2 separate regions of the Homo sapiens genome follow, and region 2 is linked to region 1. Evidence: fine-mapped expression QTL. Tissue or cell type: whole blood. Region 1 holds a variant in brackets; the other region holds the start of a gene. All regions are shown on one strand. Distances are between the middles of the regions.

Region 1 (8,209 bases):
ATAGAGGTAGCAGAACTACATATAATGCTTAACCAGTACCTGTGTAAGGTGTATAAGATCATCATATAATAAATCCTTTGCTCTTTATCAGCTATAGTGGTTCACTTCCCCAATCACACACAGCCTTACTGATACAGTGGGTGTCATGTCATTCATCTGGTCCTCTTGTGCACATGTCAATGATGTAAACCTCCATCTTTAACCACATTTCAATAGCACATATCATGTCAACACTGGTCCATGTGCATGTACATTAACTCATACAATTCTCACAGTATCAACCTCATACTTTTGTTGTCATCCGTCTTCCTTTGGTGATGAGTAAACTGAAACCCAGAGAGTTAAGTAACTTGCCCAAGGTCCCACAGGGAGTAAGTGATATATCAATGATGCAAACCAGGCAATCTGGCTCCACAGACTCTGTTTATAACTGCCCTGCAAGGCTGCCCCTGACTAGGCTGGTTTGGAAACGCTGTCCTTGCTGTTGAATAGCCACTGATAATTTCTCCCTCTTTATTTGTCAAGAGCTGTAAATCCTCAAGTCCTTCCAGTCTCCAGCTGGTGTCTTACACTGTCCAAGTCTCTGAACCATCCTGATCTGTCCTGTGCTGCTTTCTCTTACAGGCTCCTGGGGTTTGGCAATTTGGTTGCATGTGTGTGTTTTTCCTCCATGGTATCTTGTCCCTGTGGTTATTTTCCTGGAACATAATGTCCTGTCATTTCTGCCTAGAAAACCCCTAGTCATGCTTCAACCACCAGTTCAAGTATCTTCCTCAACTCCTTCCTGCAGGTAACTACCACAGCATATGTGCTAGTGCATTATTTTTCTTTACACCTGAGTCAAGTTCTTTAACCCCTCCCTACCCCCCACAACTTCCCAGAGGTGTGAGCCAAATCTTAATTCATCTTTGATTTTCCAATGACTACCCAGTGCCTGACGTGGATATAGAAGGTACTTAATAAATGTCTTTGTTCCTCAGCCAAAATCTATTTTACTGTGTTGAAACGTCTTTCAATGATAAGATCATTGCCTAAGAAAAGCTCTTTCTGTGTTTTTATCATTTTTGCTCTTAAAAATTTGCATTCTTGAACTTTTCTTTGGTAGATATTGATTGGTTCATTTTTATGAATAAGATGTACAGATCTTGAATGTACACACACACACACACACATTCACTCAAGTATAGCTACACAGAAAATAAACCTTTAAAGATATAGTTTTTGCAGGCTACTCCTCCAAGAGAGCTGTCTAGCATGTAAGCACTTTTAACTTTATGCTGAGTGGACCTAGAAAAAAAAAAAAACAAAGGTAATAAATGTGAGGGTCATAGTCATCGAAAAGGAACTGTGCACCCTGTTGCAATTGATTAGTTTAAAACTTCTCTCATCTTACCTATAAGCATTAGGGCCTGTCTTTGCTGCAAACATTAGGATCCAATCATCTGGATTAAATAGATCAAGGACTTCATAAGCCACAGATCTCATAAAATTTCTTCTTACAAATGCATCGTTTTAATAAATGTCTTTGAAGCCAATGGTGCTGATTTCATGGTGTGTATTCAGACAGTCAATGAAAAGCCTGGGAAAAGAGAAAGCAATAATAAAAACCTTCCAGTCGATGAGTCAAATTGTAAGCAATGTGCAGCTTTGTAAACTTAACTGAATGAAAGTGAATACTGGACCAACAAGAAAGATCAACTCTTGTATCCAAGTTTGATCTAAATCAGAACAAGCTTCTTATATCACTTGATACTGTTTTGCACATTGTAAGCATTTAATAAATATTTGCTTAATGCATGAATATGTTAACAGTGCTTTGCCACTCACCTGTTTTCCTAATATTAAAGTTTCTTATACATTTAATTATATCCTTTTTACATGATTCATACAATTTGAACTTTGACAAAAACAACAAATCTAGGCAGCCATGAGAATATTTCATTCTAGGAAAAATATGCAGCTAGAGTGTTTGACAAACTTAGGCTTGCAACAAAACCACCGAAAAGGATTTTTCAATTCTCCTTCCCTTTATTCTTCTGCTGTATGAGACTTTGTGAACCAAGAACTCACATGGACAAGGCAGAGCTGGGTGTGAGCCCCTCTTTTGGGGTGATTGCCAATGGGGATAAATGAGCCAAAAGGAACCTAGAACACTGTTCTATCTACATTTTCTTAGCTACCACTCATCATAGTCATTATCATCACATTATATTCATTGCAGCTAACCCTGGGACTGCCACAGTAAGCTTACTTTTCAAATGGACTCTGGTGGTCATTTCTTTTTAAAAAATATTTAATAAATTTACTTAAGACAGAGAGCTGATTCCACAGGGCCCATTTTGTATTCTCAAACATGGAAGCCTATAATTGGAAATGGATCAGAGTTAAGTCAGGAAATTCTCTGTATTATCTTTTAAAATAATAATAGTGAGTTGGAATGATTGGCTTCCTATTTTCTTTAAAAAGAAAATCATGGGCTTTTCCTTTTAAAAACAAAGTCATCAGGTTTCAGTAATTGGTTTTATATTTGTTTTTCGGTTTTATTTTTTTTTTTTTACTAACTTTACCAGGTGTTTGAGTTGATGTGTACATTTAGCCAAAAAATTTAATCGGTTGAATGTGTAAGAATAGCCTAAGTATTAAAGGTCTCTGAAAACTTTTAGAAAACTATCATCACCCTTCCAAAGCATTATCCATTGTTAATGTACAATCCAGGTGCTGAACAAAGCAAATGAAATGAAGTACACCCTAGGGTTTAGGAACATATAATACAAACAATATTTCCCCACAGCCCTAGTTAATAACAGTATTACTTTTGGAGGATAATAACCCTAGTAAGCATACAATTTGAGATTGTATGTAATCCTAAAAAGCAATTTAAGATTGTTTTTGCTTAAATTACTTTTGCTCTTCCTTCTTCACTTTTCATTGTCCTCTTCCAATCAGTTCCCAACATGGTGGTAGACTGTAGTGTCTTAAGATGGCCACCACATCTCCTAGCCTATATTTCTTCTCAAACCTTCCTGCTGTGTCTATTAAGATGTGGAATCGATGCCCCTTTTTCTTGAATCTAAGTTGGCCTTTCTACTGCCTCAACCAAAATACTAGAAACAATGTTAAGTTGACTTCTGAGTTAAGTTATAAAAATGCAATTCACTTCCCCTTTGTTCTTTTGAAATGCTTGCT[G/A]TTGAAACTAGCCACCATACTGTGAGGAAACCCAAGCAACCTATGGAGAAGCCCATTTTAAGGAAATCAAAGCTCTCAGAACCACAGCCTTAGCCAAGCTGCAAAGTGACAGCCAGTAGGAATTATCGGCCATGTGAGTGAACCATCTTAAAATCAGACTCTTCAGATCCACTGAGCCACATGAGGTGATATCACACAGAGCAGAAACAGGACATTCCCACTGAGACCTAGCCAAACTGCAAATTTATTAGGAAAAAACTGCTGTCTTTTTAAGCCAGCAATTATTTTGAGCCACTAAATTTTGAGGTAGTTTGTCATACAGCAATATTTTATTGAAAACTCCTCCCTAGTGTCTGTATAATCTGTTATCTTTCCACCTTTATCACCAGTGTTCTAAATTCAGGTTCTCATCACTTGCAAAAACTGACTTTTCCTCCAGTCTCTCCCGTTGATATTCTTTGGTACAATCCATTCTCTACTCTGCCAACTTACACCTCATTTATATTATCCTCTGCCTCAAAAATACAGAAAATGTTCAATCTGTGATCTGAGAGGTTTTAAACATCCATCAGTGGTTCTCAATTCTGGCTACCCATTAGAATTACCCAAGGAGTTTTTGAAACGAATGTTTGAACTTCAACCCAGAGCTTCTTATTCAAATGGTGAACTAGTCATTGCTACTTTTGAAGACTCTCTAGATATTCTAAAGAGCAACCAAAGTGAAAACCATTGAAGTTACTGGGGACAGAAAAGAACATTCAAGAATATGTATAATTAGGCCAGGCTTGGTGGCTTACACCTGTAATCCCAGCACTTTGGGAGGCTGAGGATGGTAGATCACTTGGGCTCATGAGTTTGAGACCAGCCTGGGCAACATGGTGAAACCCTGTCTCCACTAAAAACACAAAAATTAGTTGGGCATGGTGGTGTACACCTGTAGTCCCAACTACTGGGGAGGCTAAGGTAGGAGAATCACTTGAGCCTGGGAGGCAGAGACTGCAGTGACCCAGGATTACGCTGTGCACACTCCAGCCTGGGTATAATGAGGACAGGGCCAATAACAATATTCGAGGTATGAGTAAAAAATGAAGATAAAGAATTATGATCTGGAGTTTTTAGAGTAAAAGGACAAGCAGAAAATTAAAATATTAAGCAAAGGAAATGACTGAGAAATAGAAAGAGAAATGTCAGGAAGACACTGAAGGTTTAAACATATTCAGAATATGCATGAATTTCTCTTGTTCTTTTATTTTGTTTTGTTTTGTCAAAGTAAGTTAAAATAGAGACCGGGCCTGAAGAATCCCAAAGTAGACAAAGCCAGTTAGGCCTCATAAGTGGTCTTAACTTTGTTTGATTTGCAAACATAAGTCAAACTTAACTTGGGCTGTTTCTTGTAAGTGCCTATATTTTTTAAAAAATAAATAAAACAAGCTCAACCAATCAGAAGTTGCCCATTAACTTATGATCATTATGGAAAATTAATCCTGTAACAGTTCATATAACTGGGAACTTTTGAGTAGGATAGACCAAATATGGCTAATATATAACCATAACCAATCAAATATTTTAGTTGCTTTACATTCATGTTCATCCTATAGAAGCCTTGCCTTTGTGTTCACTTGTTGGAGCCCCCAAACTACTTCTGCTTGGAGCTGCCCTATTTGTGGATCATTGTTTGCTCAGATAAACTCTTTAAAATTGTATTTTGCTTCAGTTTACCTTTTATCAGTTTATTGTAATAAAATGATCAGGACAGCCGTGATAGGAGAAGTTAACTCCAAAATTGAATAAACATGGAATTAAGTCCTTCTAGCAAAGTTGTAAATAGACAAAAGCCCATCTTTTTCAGAAAAATACCCAAATATTTCCTTAATATACTTATTTATTTATAACACATTTTGGAATTAGTTTAATATCACTAAACAAAAATTTAGAGGCACTCATCAATTTTAGTTATTTATTTGGCCACTTTTCCTTCAATTAATGTATATGCAATACAAACCCACAAGGACATAATTTCATTTCACGAGTCAGAATATCCCCCAATCCTACCTCAATTCATTTATTGGTTCAACAAATAAATATTGAATGACTATTCTGTCACTCATTATGCTGGGGATATAGCAGTGAACAACAACACCAAGTCCTTGCCCTCAGGGGGCTTACATTCAAGTTGGATGTGGCAGATAATTAAAAAATAAATAAGTGAAATAATAGTTCAGAGGTTGTTAAATGTATGAAGAAAAATAAAACAGACTAGAAGGAAAAGAAGCATGAGGGCAGCAGTGTGTAAGGGTTGGGATAGGGGGAGTATTTTATTAAAAGGGTCAAAAAAAGGCCTTTCTGATAAGCTTTCCTTTGAGCAGAGACCTGAGAGAAGTGAGGGAGCCAGTCAGGTGGTTGGATAGCTGTGAGAGTGGTGAGATAACAAACAGCACGTGAGAACATGCATGAACAAGCTTGAAAAGGCTGCAAAAGGCTGGGTGTGGTGGCTCATGCCTGTAATCTCAGCACTTTGGGAGGCCAAGGCAGGTGGATCAGGAGGTCAGGAGTTCAAGACCAGCCTGGCCAACATGGTGAAACCTCATCTCTACTAATAGTACAAAAAGTAGCCTGGCGTGGTGGTGTGTGCCTGTAGTCCCACTACTCGGGAGGCTGAGGCAGGAGAATTGCTTGAACCCAGGAGGCCGAGGTTGCAGTGAGCCGAGATCATGCCACTGCACTCCAACCTGGGCAACAGAGTGAGACTCCATCTCAAAAGACAAGAAAAGTCCACAAGAAGGCTAGTGTGGCTGAGGTGGAGTAAGTGAGGTGGAAGGCCATAAAAGATATGATCAAAAAGATAACAGGGGCAAAAAGAAGGGGTTTCAGGAATGGGGAGCAGAGATTATGATAGGCAATGTTTCTTCACCTTGGAGTACATTAGAATCCCCAGGAAGATTCTCAGAATACCTGTGCCCAGGCTGCAGTCTCAGAGATTCTGTCGGAATTTATCTAGGATAGAGCCCAGACATCAGAAGTTTTCAGACAGCCCCAGGTTATTGAGAACTCTTGCTGTCATGATTTATATGGATCATAGGTCCATATAATCCTATGGACTTTGCTGTGAGAGAGATGGTAGATATTAAAGCTTCCAATCAGAGAATAGGCAAGATCAGTATTTTAACCAGTTCCCTCTAAATGCTTTGACTGTACCAACTTCTTTATGAAAGCAAAAATTTACAGAGAAGGAAATAGAGCTTCTCCCAAAATGTTAATAAAATTCTTAAAGGATGATTGCCTTGGTATGTTTTGGAGAAGAGACTATATGGAGCAAGAACCAATTCAGATCACTTTTCTCTATTTTTAACATTTTCCATAATGAATATGTGTAGCTTTTGTATTAATAATAGAAATTTATCATTTAAAACATTAAAAAATAGATTGAAAGAATATATATTAATGACAAACAGCATTATATTCTATCACTTATCTATTCTTCCAGATGTGTTTTCATGAAGGACAATGAATTGTATATTATTTTGCTTAGGGCTACCATAGAAAAGTATGTGATATTAGATGGTTTAAAAAAGAAAATACATGTTGTCTCACAATTCTGGAGGCTAAAAGTCCCAAATTCAGGAGTCAGCAGGGCCATGCTCCCTCTGAGACTTTCAGCAGAATCCTTCCTTGCCTCTTCCTAGCTTCTAGATGTAGGCAGCAGCCGTGGGCATTCCTTGCTTGCAGCTGCATCGTCCAATCCATGCTTCCATCATCACACAGCCATATTCACATCACCTTCTCTGTATATCTTTGTTCAAATTTCCCTTTTATAAGGATGGCAGTCATTGGATGACAGCCCACCCTAATCCCTTCATCTTAACTTGGTTAAATCTCCAAAGACTCTATTTCCAAATAAAGTCACATTCTGAGCTACAGGAGGTTAGGACTTCAACATATCATTTTTAGGGTGACACAATTTAACTCATAAAGGATTGATTGGTTCTCATAGCACCTTTAAAAACAGAATTGTTATCATATGTCAACATCTTTATGAGAGCAAAAATCTACAAAGAATAAAGCTATTCCCAAAAAGTTAATACAATTCTCAAATAAAGGATGACTGCCTTGAGAAGGATAATCTATGGTAGTTTTTTTTATTCTCTCACTTTTCCTACTCCATGAGCATGTTCCAGAGAATGTGTAAAACTCTACAAACTACCTTCGTAATTTTTGGTGACTTTCATTCACGGAATATGAATTTTCAATGCTTCAGTGGGCTTGCATTTAGGTCTGGATCCTTTCACCTTTATGGCCACATAAATCCTAACACAGGTTTATTGAAACTACACAGAGTCCTTCAAATTGGTTTCACAAATTCCAAGAGAGTGGGGATTAGAATCTTAATTGTGAGGCCTGAGAAGGAATGGATATCAGCTCATAAACATGTTTAAAACATGTCTAACTTGCTAAACAACTTGATTTTTCCTACAAAGGCTTTTGTTTTCAGCACCAGAATGAAAATTCTTAGGCTGACAGATTAACTTCATTGGATAGCTGATTTTTGTTGAATGCTGGGTTTGAGAGCCAGTAACAAGCCTCATAAGAAAAATCCAAGCAACACATAATGCTTGGCCTCAAGACAACCCACAGGCAAAGCAAATCCTTATCAAGAGGCCACTGGTGATCCAAGTAATCAAGTTGAGTTTAAATTAATGTGCGGATGCACGTGCTGTTCAAGGAACATGAACGTCGTGTCATGGGACAGAGAGTGAAAGAAGATGAAGAACAAACACCTACTTCTCAATATATTATCAAACATCATGTTTGGAATTACTCTAAAAGTACACACAGTGAAGCATAAACTGCATTTGACCCATCTATTATCTGGAAGTTAAATATATCTAATTCATTTATTTCCACTAATCAGCTGCTACACATTTTTCTCCGGCTTCTGCCATCTGCTTTTAATTACCAAAACAATTCACAATCCAAACTGAAATGATAAATAGTTAATCATCACAGGCTTTTACAGGTGCGGGTC
Region 2 (8,179 bases), 180 kb before region 1:
AATTTGAATAATTAATAACCACCTACTCTGGACCCAATATTGTTTTAACTAGTATTAGGACAAAAATAACCATAGGTTATAGTCCTTGCCTATAGGACAACTTACAATCTATTGAAGAGGTAAGGTGTATACCTCGAATAAAATGCTGACAGTAGACAGTAAAGTGCAGAATGCAATAGATAATGCATTCATTTTTTCATTTAACACATATTTATTGCATATCTGTTATAAATATGTTATATACTCTTCTGGGAACTGAGGTTATGACATTGGACAAACACACATGGTCACTGGCCTCATGGAGGTCACATTCTAATGGATATTAATAGGGATTAATATATATGTAATATATGGGTTTAAAAAAATCGTCATCATCAATGTGTTTTGGGTAATAGCATTTCAAATCTTAACTCTGAAGAAAAGAATACAATATGCAAATAGGGGACATCCTTAACCAAAAAATGTTGTCAATAGAAAAACAGCTAAATAGTCCAGTAAAATCTTTGTATTTCTTAAAATATTCTGGATGGCAATTCATAACTATATTTTCCATTAATAGTCATCAATTTTAGCTAGTGTAAAATATGTATAGCAAATAGACTATTGTTTTCTGTTACAAGGCATTATTGACTCAATTTATTTAAACTTTTAACAAAAAAAGACATCATTTGGCAAAAGCAAAACAGATCTTCTAAGGATTCCCCAAATCTTAGAACATTATACATATTTAAATCTAAATATTTTAAATGTACATCTTTGTGAACTTTTTGAGATGTGGGAGACAGAAAACAATAGTTCACAAAGTACAGGATGTGGGCTAAATGTTTCACTGTCATAGAGAGGTAGGGAGAGATCATAAGAAAGTGACAAAGACACAGAGGCCAGCTGTATTTATCATTACTTATCTAAGAGCTGGTCACTCTCAGGTATTTACTATGACTTGCTAATAATTCCAAAAAGAGCTGTATTACAGAAGAGATCAAACCAGAAACACACCCAGGTGTTTCACAAAATAAAACTATGATGTTAGGCATATTATTCACACCACCCTTCCTGGTCTGAGATGTCACAATAATGCTATCAACCTACCTCATTTTAATCGACAAGTGATTATGGAAAGTTGATTTCTTTGAATTAAATCCATCACATCAAGAAAGCAGTGCCATAACAGTTCCAGTATTTATGGTGACCCACAAATCATTTGCCCCCTTGCATGCCTTGCTTCTCATCCTGTTCAGTTGCAAGACCAGAAAAGTTGAGGAAGGAGGTTTCCCTTCATGGAAGGTGATGGATTAACATAATTATCATATAGCTTCATTTAGAGTTGATAACACATCTATTCTGCCTCAAAACCTTTCCTGATAGCGATGCCATGAGCTGCATAATAATCACTATGCTTTGATTAATTATTTTGCCAAATAAATGGATAAATTAATTTCACCTACATACACTGATAGCCTCAGTTTCTGCAGGGTGTTGCTTCTTCCTATGGCAACTACTTGGAATCAAAATAGAAGTAATACAAATTGCAGTACTGAGCATACCAAATGGTTACAGTAAAAAGATTTCCATTTCAATTATCAGAATAAAAATATCACATGAAGTTTAGAACTTGGAGTGAAGAAAACTCCTAATTAAGGGAAACTTATGAAAGCCTTTAGCAAGTTCTTTGCTGAATGCATTTTTTGGTTTCTTGATCCTCCAACCAATCACATTGACAATGACAAAAGATATGCAAATTTAAACTGACAATAGTCAAGCCACATTGCTCTGACTCATACCAATAGGGACGTTTTCAGCATATATTCAGCTTGATTTTTACACTTGAAAGGGTGAATGTAACCAAAGAACATTTTAATAGTTATTCTTGGCTATAATCTGAAAGCTATCCCATAATCATTGACCAAGAACAATGCAAACAAGAATCAAATTTATTTTGCAAAATAAATTAACATATGAAACACGTGCATGATTTAAGCCCAGCAGAATTATGTGTTTACCCTGTCACTGCTGAATAATTGCATAGCAACAAGAAATATGCATTACTATGTTTGAATCACTATTGTGATTATACGCTTTAAGCAAACAAAACATTACGTTTTTGGTAGAATAGATCATTCAGGATAACTTGGGACTAAATTTTCCTTCCCGTTCCCTCAAAGAATCCAGACTAATATGTAATGATTGAATTCTCACTAAAAACTATACGGATGGTGTACTGAAGAATAATAACAAGCTGTTCAACCAAAATCATTTGTTTACAATGGAAATAAATTTTACCAAAGAAAAATACAAACATCCTATTATAAACTACTACTGAAAGTAATGCATAAAATTTCAGCTACAATTGTAAAAAACCTGAGAGTTCTGTTTGCTTTTTATTCTTCTGCCTACCTACTGATTGCCTATTACAGTCCTATAGTCTGTAATAGAAAGATTACAATATCAGCTTTGGAAACTGTAGAACTACTAAGTTCCAGTTAATGTGTCAAATAAAATAACAGTGATCTTAGTTCAGTCCCTAGTGGACAAAAGTAGAATAACTATTACTTGGCATGATTCAGCAGGCAATGACCTAAGTGAGTGTGACCACACAGGAACAAAATAGAGCATTTGTCCTTTCCCTATCTTTTATCTTTTTAAAGGGATTGCCCGGTTAACAGACTAACTTAAAGAAGCCTGATTGCATACCTATCTACATGTACCAAGTGAATCCATTAACAAGGGAGAGAAGCTTTTCACAAATTGAGACATTGCCTCCCTTCTAGTAGCATAGTCAGTTGAATATACTTATTCTCGGCTGCCTATTATTAAACAGAGTGCAAAGACAGAATGAATTGCAGAAGTGTGTTCATAATTTAATAGGCTTATCTTCAACAAAAACTTAAATGGTTTGTAGATAAATAACTGGATAAACTATTCGATTTGATTTCTATAAATTGAGATTACATTCATACTCAACATTAACATTCATCAAATAACATGGATACTTAAACTCGCCAGGTACTGTCTCTAACTACAATGCCCTGAGAAGGGAGGTATTTCAGGAATATAGTAGACTACATGCTGCGTTCAGCCCATATCTGCAGGTGCATGTCTTCCTCAACAGCCAGCATGCCCTCATCGTGAGCGAGCAACCCCTTTCCGACAGTTAACATTACAATGTATCTTTTTAATTTTTTTTCTCAAGGACAGAAGAAAAAAATATTTAACAGAAATCAGTCTACTATTCTACCACTTGCTGAAACTAACAGTTCCCTTTACATAAATATACAATTTCTCCAACCAAATATCATATTTTATATTTACTCTCACTTCATGTTAATTTTTATAAAGGTTAAAAAAACAAATACTTTGTGATGATTTGCCACCCCAGCGGCACAAAATTTTCTGGTGCAAAATCGATTTGATCTTATTAATTAATATTGTCATTATTATTTATTTTTCACCAACTTGCTTAAGAGGTACATACTTTCTTTCTTAAGGTAGTGTTTTGACAGAGAGAACCTTAATGCTGAACTTTAGAAAAGAGAAACCAAAAATGTCATAAAATTTGCCAGGGCTAGACACACAAACGGGGTGCCCCCACACATTCATAGGTTTGGGCAAGCCCCCAAACCTTGGCTTACCCAGGAAGCCAAACCCAGACAGCCGTCTTGCAATTGCAAACACTGCCCCCCTGGAGCAAAAGGTAAATACACAAATGCTCCCCTAAGGAACTTTAAGTTAGCTGCAGTGCAAGAAAGGAAAAAGGTCCGTGCTATTAGAAACTGAAAGCAATCACTTACTTTTTGCAGCCACTGAGTATAATTTTCCATCACATGTTCCAGATGTTGAAGTTTCTGGGAAGAGAAATCCGGTTCCACGTGTGGAGCATCTCTCTGCAGAGCGTTTGTGTTGTACTGGTCTGTCGTACTCTCACGACAGTTGCCATCGTGTTCTGGAAGAATGAAAGTGTAGGCACATTGCCCATGTTGAATCCGGTTATATCTTCTCCCACTGTTTTCTGGACTTCGGCGCTGATTGCTGCACCCTATGTGAGTCAGAATGGCAGCGAGGAAAGCAAAGGAAAGGAAAACTGTCATTGTACTGCCAGCACACTCCTTCCGTGCCTCTCGCAAAACTTGCTCCTTTCTTCTGACCTCTAAAACTAGTTCTTTATTTCAGGTAAAACTGCTTGTTTGTTTGACTCTTTCCCCCTCAAAGAAAGCGTTTGAAGAAGAATCATAGAAAACTAGCCATTTGTTAGCTTTGTTCTAAAATTTTAAAATTTTTTATTTCACTGCAATGATGTTTTTCTTCGTTAAAACTTGAGATATTTATTGCATAGTAGCTGAGATTTATTGTTTCCTCTCTGTGTGACCGTTCAGCATGGAGCCTGCCTGAGTCAGCTGCGTGTACATATTCTAGACCCTTTCCTCTACCCTATCTGCTGCAGATCTGCTATTTTCTCCCAGACCTCAGTGAGTTTTATTAAGGTTGCACATCCAAGCCAAGCTGGAAGCAGGCAGCCTTTCACAAGATGACTTGACAGGAATGCATGAGTGTGCCCCTATACTAAGGATTGCTGATGGCTTAGGGCGGCGGGATCGTCTTACAAATTGGCTAGATGCGCATGACCTCGATCATGTATGGCCCTCCCGCCCCTTTCCACAGACAATTGCCTTGAGCCTTTAGCAGATTCATGGCAAATCAATAAATAGAGCAGTCCACCTTAATACACTTTTGGTGTGCATGCTGACCTACTAAAATATAGCAAACTAGCAGTATGTTTTTAAAGTTACTATTTAGTCGAGGGACCCTAAGAAGAAAATTGGCATAATGTCCAATGGAATTATTTTTGATAGAGAATGATAAACCCATATCATTATTAAATGTCTTTAAAAAACATGTATTCTTGACTCTGAGGAAAAATATGTTAAAAAACAGTTTTTACAGATGGTATTCTTTCATTGTATTCACTTAGACTTTTAGGAGTTGAAGAAAATAATCAGAGAGGATCAAATTAGCAAGAAAATTAGCATCATTTGTTGCTCAAAGCAATATGTTGCACAAAGCAATATAGTATGTGCATATTAAAGAGGGTTATCTAAGTACCTTTTGGTATAGGGTTCTTAAATGAAACTGGTGTCCTGATCAGAATGCAACCCTTCATGTTCTGTGTATATAAATTGAGCAACTTCCCTACAAAAACAATGTGGCTACAATTTAAAGCAGTGGCTTGAGAATTATTAATTCCTGTGGTATATCCTAATCCTGTATTTTACAAGGATCTCTTTGGTGGCTATGGCTGTCTTTAACACTGGTGTGGAAGTTCCACATAAAAACCTCCTGTGGCTGCACAGACATACTATGTGAGAACAAGCATATATCAGGTGTGCTAACAGCCAGCAATGGGCTGTACAGGAGACATCTCTGTGCTTCTGTGAAGGAAGAAAGAAAAATTATCAGAAGATGATTTCCCACAGGCAGCGTATAAACATTTGAACAAAGGGACCCATAAACATAAACAGGCAATAATTGTAGAATTTAGGGAACGGCTTTGAGATCTTTACTAGATGCAGAAAACCTGAATTATGAGTTGGGATTTTCATTAGGAACTGGGAGGGCTTTTAGACAACTGCAGTCATGGTGTGAAAACAGAAGCCACAGCTGTCATCTCCCATGTCTTGGAAGGAGAACAGGGCAGTGGGTGAAGGTCCGTAGTGGTTAGAGATGGGCATTTAGGGAGAAGTTAGAGGAGAGGTCAAAACAAATTCCAGAACAAATGCGATTTACTTGGGGAAAGAAACCTTGCCGAGATTCATCAGTCCTTTCCACACCAAATAACAAATTTCTGATTGGACAGATATGGAAGCAAGTTATGCCAAACACAGCAATAAAATATTTGAACCACTTTTGCAGCCTCTTGAACTTTTGCGTGTCTCCTCATTGAGTCATGTATCACTCCTGTGCAACAATAATAATGGCATGCATTAAGACCTTACTGTTTTCCAGGCGAAGCACTCCTTACACACTATCTCACTTAATCATTCCAACAAACCTAAGATCACGGATATCATCCGTTTAACCCCATTTTATCAATGGGAAGACTGAGTCACAGAAAGGCTAACAGGATGTAATTCACAGAGCTGGCAAGTGATGGCGCCAGTATGTGAACTCAGGCAAACTGACTCAGAGCCTGTTTCAAACCACCAGGCCAGCCTGCTTTTGGAAATCTCTGCAAGGAATGAAAGCAATTTCAAAAGCGCTCCAGCTGCATTGATTTACAGTCCTAAACCAGGAGAAGTGACGTACCTAGAAGAAAAAGCACTGTTAAAACCAGAGTATCTCTCCAAAGTGATTCAGGCCTTTTCCAGCACACGCGTGCGCGCGCACACGCACACACGCACACACGCACACACACAGTGACAGGTAACCTATGCACAGCCACAAAGATGAAGTGCACTGGCAAAATGCAGGTTGTCTAAGAACACTTTCCAATAATGCTTGATTTGAAAATTATCCATGGAAAGAAGAGAGTCCAAACCCGACACCTAGAAGTGTTTTGCGAAGAACTAAATACAGCAGAAAATTGGCAGAAGACTAATGGATGAGTGGTGAGGTTTCTATTAAAGTGCTCCTGTGTTTTTAAATAGCCGAGACTGTTAAAAATCTGTTCCTCCACGTGTGTGTCTGTGTACGTCTCTGTGTCCTTATCCATGTGAATTTTCGCAATTAGAATAAATGAAAAGCAGGAATGCACAATTTCCTGAGGGAAAAGTAGACACTAAGAAAGAGAAGCCTGAAATGCAAATAAAAAAGGAGGGGTCGAGGGACAAAGAGACAGAGAAAAATGTAGAGACTGATTTATTTCTTTTGCAGAAAAACAAAATCAACCTTAAACCATAACACTGGAAGTACTAGTGTCATTCTGAAAAAAAATGTCTGAAGATGAATTTTAAGTAATTAGAAAACACAAGGATGTGCAGAATTGACTCCGGTGTTTTTGGAACTCCAGTTAAGGAGACTGTAGGTACATTTAAGGATCCTGACACACTAAAGATAATATGTCTTTGGGATCATGCATCTAAGCAACAGCAACACTGTTGTGTGTTGCTGATTATTCAGAAATGGGGCAGAATTCAGGATGCATTAAAATTTAGGGAGTAGGGCTGGGTTCAGTGGCTCATGCCTGTAATCCCAGCACTTTGGGAGGCCGAAGTGGGAGGATCGTTGGAGACTAGGATTTTGAGTACAGCCTGGGCAGCATAGGGTGACCCTCCCTGTCTCTACCCAAGATAAAATAAAATAAAAATTAGCCAGGTGTGGTGGCACGCCCAGGACCTGTGGTCCCAGCTACTCAGGAAGCTGAGGTGAGAGAATCGCTTGAGTCCAGGGGGTTGAGGCTGCAGTGAGCCATGATTGCCACTGCACTCCAGCCTGGATGACAGAGTGAGACCCTTTCTAAATAATAATAATAATAATAAGCGAGTAATAAGAACAAGCCAATTAAAATTCATCTACCACACCTCCATGAAGGATAAAATATTTATAAAGAACTAAACAATTCTGTTCAATTGAATTCTGTGGTAGCTTGAACCCAAAAGCTTTGTGTTTTATTAGAGATCTGGAATAAGGAAGTGTAGGCTTTAAGGTTTTGATCTCATATTTACAAAGAGTCCTAGTAAATGTCCCACTTAGTCTGAAATTTCCAAAGGGACCAAGAGCCATTTATACCAGAACTTAATGTGCCTAAATCTATCCTAAGAAACAGTCTTTGATAATTCTTTGGTAAAGCTTTCTTAATTTCTCCAGGTCCAATAAATGCTCTCTGTGTTAAATTTCAATAACCTTCTCCTCATGTCTCCAAAACTGCACTGCTCACGTTGCTTGCTAATTGTTGCCTTTTTTTTTATCTGTCTCTTGCTTTTGCTGTGAGCTGCTAAAGTGATCTTCTCTTTGTCATCATTGATTCCTCAACATTCACTATGCACTTTGTCTGAAGGAATGAAAGAATAAGCAAATAAATGAATGAGCTGATTAATGACTCAGTTGATGCAACTTCCTGACTCTCTATCTGGTTACTACATGACTGGCCACATTCATTGCATTTGTTGGGTGAGTTTGCCTAGAATCCCTAGGCATGAAGAACTGAGGATAAAGCCAAACTTATTCTAAAGAATGAGTTAGACGCAAG

The links. PIP is the estimated chance that this variant, and not a neighbour inherited with it, causes the effect.
Region 2: ANGPT1 starts here. The variant in region 1 is fine-mapped to the expression of ANGPT1 in whole blood (TOPMed, PIP above 0.99).

What each region holds. Positions count from the first base shown.
Region 1 is chr8:107,672,174-107,680,382 of GRCh38, forward strand. No RefSeq gene overlaps it. Among named protein-coding and RNA genes, the nearest start is that of ANGPT1, 180 kb to the left of the region's middle. The variant G/A (reference allele first, on the strand shown) is at 3,187.
Region 2 is chr8:107,493,474-107,501,652 of GRCh38, forward strand. It overlaps ANGPT1 (angiopoietin 1), which reads right to left and starts at 4,445. Exons shown (of 9, transcript NM_001146.5): 1 at 3,789-4,445. The coding sequence starts at 4,085. RefSeq lists a silencer at 7,944-8,144.